2 separate regions of the Homo sapiens genome follow, and region 2 is linked to region 1. Evidence: fine-mapped expression QTL. A gene starts in region 1. The other region holds a variant in brackets. All regions are shown on one strand. Distances are from middle to middle.

Region 1 (2,500 bases):
TTATCTCACTGGGGCTCTACAACACATCTGTGAAGGAGACACAACACTATCTCCATTTTAAGGCTGAAAGAACTGAGTCTTGGCCGGGCGCGGTGGCTCACCCCTGTAATCCCAGCACTGTGGGAGGCCGAGGTGGGCGGATCACCCGAGGTCAGTTCTAGACCAGCTTGGCCAACATGGTGAAACCCCGTCTCTGCTAAAAATACAAAAAAAAAAAAAGCCGGGCAGGCGCCTGTAATCCCAGCTACTCCGGAGGCTGAGGCAGGAGAATCGCTTGAACCCAGGAGGGAGGTTGCAGTGAGCACTCCAGCCTGGGCGACAAGAGCGCGACTCTGTCTCAAAAAAAACAACTGAGTTTCAAAGTCAACGAGCCAAGACCAAACCCAAGTCTTCCAACTCTAAGAAGACAATGAGTGTTTTATAACCAAACTGTTACTATTGGCTGGGTTGTGCCACCCTTGGGAAGCATCTTGGAGCCAGATTTCTGAGGAACCTCAATGGCAGGGAGAGGCGCTGGGCTCACCTGGGGAAGGAAGCCCCAGGGCGCTGGAAGGTGACTGAGGAGGGACATGGTGTAAGCTGTTTAGGAATCAGAGAGGAAGCCCCGCACATTTCCAGACCAGACCAGCTGAGATGAAGGCTGCTTTGTTAATTACCTAGCCTAGAGTTTTCCGAATTCCCCTGACAAAATTTAGCTGGAACACGTCACCACCACATTTCCAAGGGTCCCCCGTCTTGGAAATGTCTCACCCTTTCTCTGGGAAGGTTTTCCTGGAACTCAGGAATCCGGAGTGTTAACACGCCTCGGCCGCAGGGTGTATCTCTCTGGCAGGTTTGGGGAATCTCACAAAGTTCAACACCAGTCTTGCAGCTGAGGGTGAAAAGCGGGAGCCAGACAGCAAGGGTTCGCCCAGGGCTCGCGTTACCTTCTTGATTTTGCCTAGGAAAAGCTCTTTGGCGAAAGCTCGTACAGGCGGGCTGGTGCGCAGTAGCCGCCGGTTCGCGGTAGAGACCACCAGACCCCGGCAGGCACGAGCCGCAGCCGTGGTGCGCAGGAAGAGCCCGCAGCCGCTCATGCTGCCCGATGTTCCCCAGCCTCAGCCTCAGTCTCCCCTTCTTAGCGCCGCAGGGACACACACACGTCTGATGACGTTACTGGCCCGCGACAACGTGCAGTACTCACTGCGCTTGCGCGGTCCCCCGCAGCAGGGGATGGAGAGGCCAGAAGGGCGGGAAGGCTACCACCTGCCGCGCCCAAGGCCTTAGTCACGTGCACCTGGCTGGCCCGCGCCGCCTGATGACGTCACACGCCTACGCTTCCCGCCGGCCCCACTGCGCTTGCGCGGCCAAAGGAGCTGGCCGGAGGAAATTGTAGGCCCTGGGCCGCGGGCATCTCGGCGGGTATAATCTCTGGCCGTCGTGACGGCGGTGACGGACCTGTTTTTCACATACCAGCGGTTGTTTCCATAAATGCCAGCCATGGGAAATCTCCCTGTGTACAGAAACCTAAAGGCCGGCTCAGCTGCCTCCACTTGTCTCTTTTGTCACTTGTGGCCACGAGGCCGTGGTAAAACTTGAGAAAAGCAAAAGAATGAGGGAAATGCGCTGTATTGGGGTCTCTGCAGGGGCACGGTAAGGGTAAGGGTCCATTTTTAACTGGATGGTGGATTCCTGAGATACTGTTTTGTTCCTAGTTGACATGTATGTTACATATATTTTTTGGAAAAGGAAAAGAAAGTGGGTGTTCAGTCACAGAGCGGTCTGGATACAACTGAGTCACCTCTGTCCTGGGAAACACTAACTTAAAAGGCAGGCGGAGGAAGAGAAACTACAGAGAGAGCTGAGAAGAGATGGGAACTATTGGATGGGATGGGACAGGCCAGGCTGTAACCGCCCAAGGTTACAGCCCGCTGACTAGACAGCTGATTTATCAAGACGGAAATTGCAATAGAGAGAGAGTAATTCACGCAGAGCCGGGTGTGTTGGAAAGGGAGTTTTATTAGCCAAATCGGTCTCCCCAAAAACGGATCGGAATTTTTAAGGATAATTTGGCGAGTAGAAGCTCGGGAAGTGGGAGGTGCATGATTGGTCGGGTTGGAGATGGACTGATAGGGGGCCGAAGTGAGTTTTTCTTGCTGTCTTCTGTTCCTGAATGGGATTGCAGAACTAGTTGAGCCAGATTACCAGTCTGGGTGTTGGTAGGTTTTACAACAGTGATGTTATTCCCAGGAACAATTTGGGGGACGTTCAGACTCTTGCAACCAAAGGCTGTATGGCCTCTAAACTGTAATTTCTAATCTTATAGCTAATTTGTTAGTCCTCCAAAGGCCAACTGGTCCCAGGCAAGAAGAGGTTGTTTTTTGTTGTTGTTGTTGTTGTTTTCCCGGGAAAGGGCTATTTTTGTTTTGAAGTTAAACTATAAACTCATTCCTTCCCAAGGTTAGTTCAGCCTACGCTCAGGAATGAACAAGGACAGCTTGGAGGTTAGAAGCAAGATGGA
Region 2 (3,016 bases), 25 kb after region 1:
CAATGCCAGTCACTGTAGAACACTTTTGCCAGTGTGGAAACCAAGGACTAATGAATATAGACCAGTGCATGACATGTTGCAAACCAGGCCCCCAGGGATTCCAGAAATGGAAATTACACACAGTCAACCAGCCACAAAGCTCAGGAAAAGTGGAGCACATGAATCGGACACTCAAGCAGCTACTAAAGAAATATTGCCAAAAAACTCATCTAAGATAGGATCAGGTCCTGCCCATGGTCCTCCTCCAAGTCAGGTGTACCCCCACCAAACAAACTAGGTATTCACCCTCTGAAATCTTGTTCGGCCAGCCACCCCCAACCATAGGTCAAATTAAAGGTCAAAATTAAGGTAATTCCGTGAGTTAAGGGAGCTAACCTTGAGAAGGCAGATGCAGGCCTTAGGGAGAGCCATGCAAGAGATCCATGGCTGGGTACTGGAAAGAATGCCCATAGGACTAACAGACCAAACACACCCCTTTAGACCCAGGGATTCTGTTTAGGTCAAGAAATAGAATCCAACCACTTTAGGACCCATATGGGATGGGCCCCATACTGTAATCTTGTCCACTACCACTGCTGTTAAAGTTGCAGGAATCGTGCCTTAGATCCACCACAGTTGGCTGAAACTGGCAGCCCAGGACAAGTGGACCAGCCAGCAAGACTCAGACCATCCAAACCAGCTGATCCTATGACAGGACCGAGGTGCCAGTGAAAGTGACAACAGCCCTGCTCTGGTGACTCCAGAAGCCGACCAGTCTATGCACAGCTGAAGCTTGAGGAGACAGCAGTCCTGTTAGTCACCCCAGAAGCTGACTAGTCTATGCACAGCCGAAGTTTCATCTAGGAAGTAAATGTAGTTAGAAATCTTAAGCCCAGTAATTTTCCTTGTAATCTTAATTGTTTTACTATTAACCTGTCACTGTGCTCAACCTCCTCCCCTGGATAAGGACCTCTGTTGTCCATGCTGGGTATGAACATACTATTCCTTACTTTGTTCTTGCTACTCCCTCTATCCATGTTAGAAGGAGGGGTATGCGGAAACTTTAAACTAATTGTTGCCTAGAAATTGATGACAATAGGAAGGTCATTGAAGATATAACTGCAAAAATTCAAAAATTAGCCCATGTCCCAGTCCAAATTTGGAAAGGATGGTCTCCAGATACCCTCTTTGGGGGCTGGTTTTCGTCCCTTGGAAGATTTAAGACCTTAGTAGGAATAGTTCTGGTCATACTGGGAGTCTGTCTCACACTCCCTTGTCTCCTACCTCTCCTTGTTAAAAACATCCAATCAGCCATAGAGGTTCTTGTAACCAGGTAAACCACCACCCAACTAATGGCATTAATCAAATATCAACCTTTGCCAAATAAAGGACTAACTCCTCATGGAGAATTAAATTCTGATGATAATGCTTTCTATTAAACTTTATTTATAAACAGCATCAAAGGGGAGAATTAAGCAGGAAATATAAGAAAAACAAGTAAAGGGAAAACAAGTCCAGTTGGAGCTATGATAACATTATCTGCAAGGCCAGGCAGGGGCCCCAAAGAAATGGATTCCAAGAATAGGGATGAGAAAAACAAGTTCTTATCCGTCTCCCCCTGGAATTCTCTCCCAATGCCATTATTCTTTGTTCTGC[G/A]CTTGTAACTATTTTTGTAACTATTTCTGCAAGTTTGCAAGGATTTTATAAGTTCCTGTTTTCCCATCTGTGCAGGATGGCAAAGGTCACAAGACATGCCTGAATTGCAAAACCTGTCACAGTTAACTGCCTTTGTTCTGCTTCTGTAAGCTTGCTTTCCCCACCCTGCAAGTTTTGTGCCACTGGCTAGCCACTCCCCTTCAGTTGCCTGAATAAAAGTTAAGCCTGGCCTTTGTTCATTTATCAGCCTCTGAATATTAACCCACTAGGCCGGTGGCCACCTAAATAAAATCCTCCTGTTTCACCCATTGGTCTCTCCAGTCTCCTGATTCCCGCAACAGTCAGTCCAAGGCTCAGTTTCCCCATCTGCACAAAAGGGCCCCCTCCAGCTCTGATTCCGAGGATCCAGCCTCAGTCTGTGTCTGTGAACAGTGCTGGGTGATGATCCTGTTGACCCCTCATGTGCCTGTGACAAGGAAGGTACCACAGGGACCTAGAGATGCCCATTGAACTAAGAGGACACTCAGGCCAGAGAGGAGTGGCTGCCAGAGGCTGAGCAGTGGGGCAGTGGTTCCAGCTGGGACTGGTCCCGATCTCTTATCTCCAAGTTCTCACCACTGTGCCCATATTCTTGGAAGGAGGAAGTAAGGAAGAGGTGGACTGGGCAGCCTCAGGTGGATCTGAGTCTAGCTGCACCTCAGGCAGCTGAGGGTCCCCAGGCCTCAGTTTCCCATCTCTCCCCAGCAAGGCTGTGAAGCCAGGAGCCCCTGGTGGCTGTCACACAGGTGGGCAGAGGCCCCTCCTCCAAGGTTGCTGCTGTGTCTCTTCCCTGGCCTGGAGTCTGTGTGCCCATGGCAGAGGCCACCACTGGGCAGGGTGATTACCCCGGGCCTCCCTGATACTCACCCCTGCAGATCTGGAACATCAGCCTGGAATGGAGACCTTGTCACGGCCCTCCCTGCTTGCCACCCACAGCAGCTGAACACGCCATTCAGCCGTTCAGAGGTGGAGGCAGAGCCTGCACCTGGGCTCCCGAGGGCTGGGGCTCGGGTGCCCCAAGATGGCTGCCCAAGGGCCCCGACCCCACACCTTGAAGCTCCTCACAGCTCCTCCCCAGCCCACAGAGGGGAAGTCAGAGGGCAATGGCTCAGAAAGTCCCCCACACTCAGGCTCATGTGGGAACACTGAAAAGAGGAGCTCAGGGGGACCCCATCATTGTGGGAGACGCTGAGGCCCCATAAAGCCTCATGCAGAGGAGAGGGCCTGGCTGCAGCCCCACTGTCTGCCTGCCTTCCGGAGCACCAAAACCTCCCCAGGATTTCCTTTCACTTTGAAGGCAAGTGTCTCCCAGGTATGAATACTGAATCTCCCCAACTTAATG

The links. PIP is the estimated chance that this variant, and not a neighbour inherited with it, causes the effect.
Region 2: its variant is fine-mapped to the expression of ACAD9 in hypothalamus (GTEx, PIP above 0.99).

What each region holds. Positions count from the first base shown.
Region 1 is chr3:128,878,268-128,880,767 of GRCh38, reverse strand. ACAD9 (acyl-CoA dehydrogenase family member 9) reads right to left here and starts at 1,148. Exons shown (of 18, transcript NM_014049.5): 1 at 927-1,148. The coding sequence starts at 1,076. It overlaps ACAD9-DT (ACAD9 divergent transcript), which reads left to right and starts at 1,332. Exons shown (of 3, transcript NR_186174.1): 1 at 1,332-1,632. RefSeq lists enhancers at 1-573, 882-961, 574-1,426, 1,022-1,571, 1,427-2,278.
Region 2 is chr3:128,853,483-128,856,498 of GRCh38, reverse strand. No RefSeq gene overlaps it. Among named protein-coding and RNA genes, the nearest start is that of MIR12124, 8.2 kb to the right of the region's middle. The variant G/A (reference allele first, on the strand shown) is at 1,636.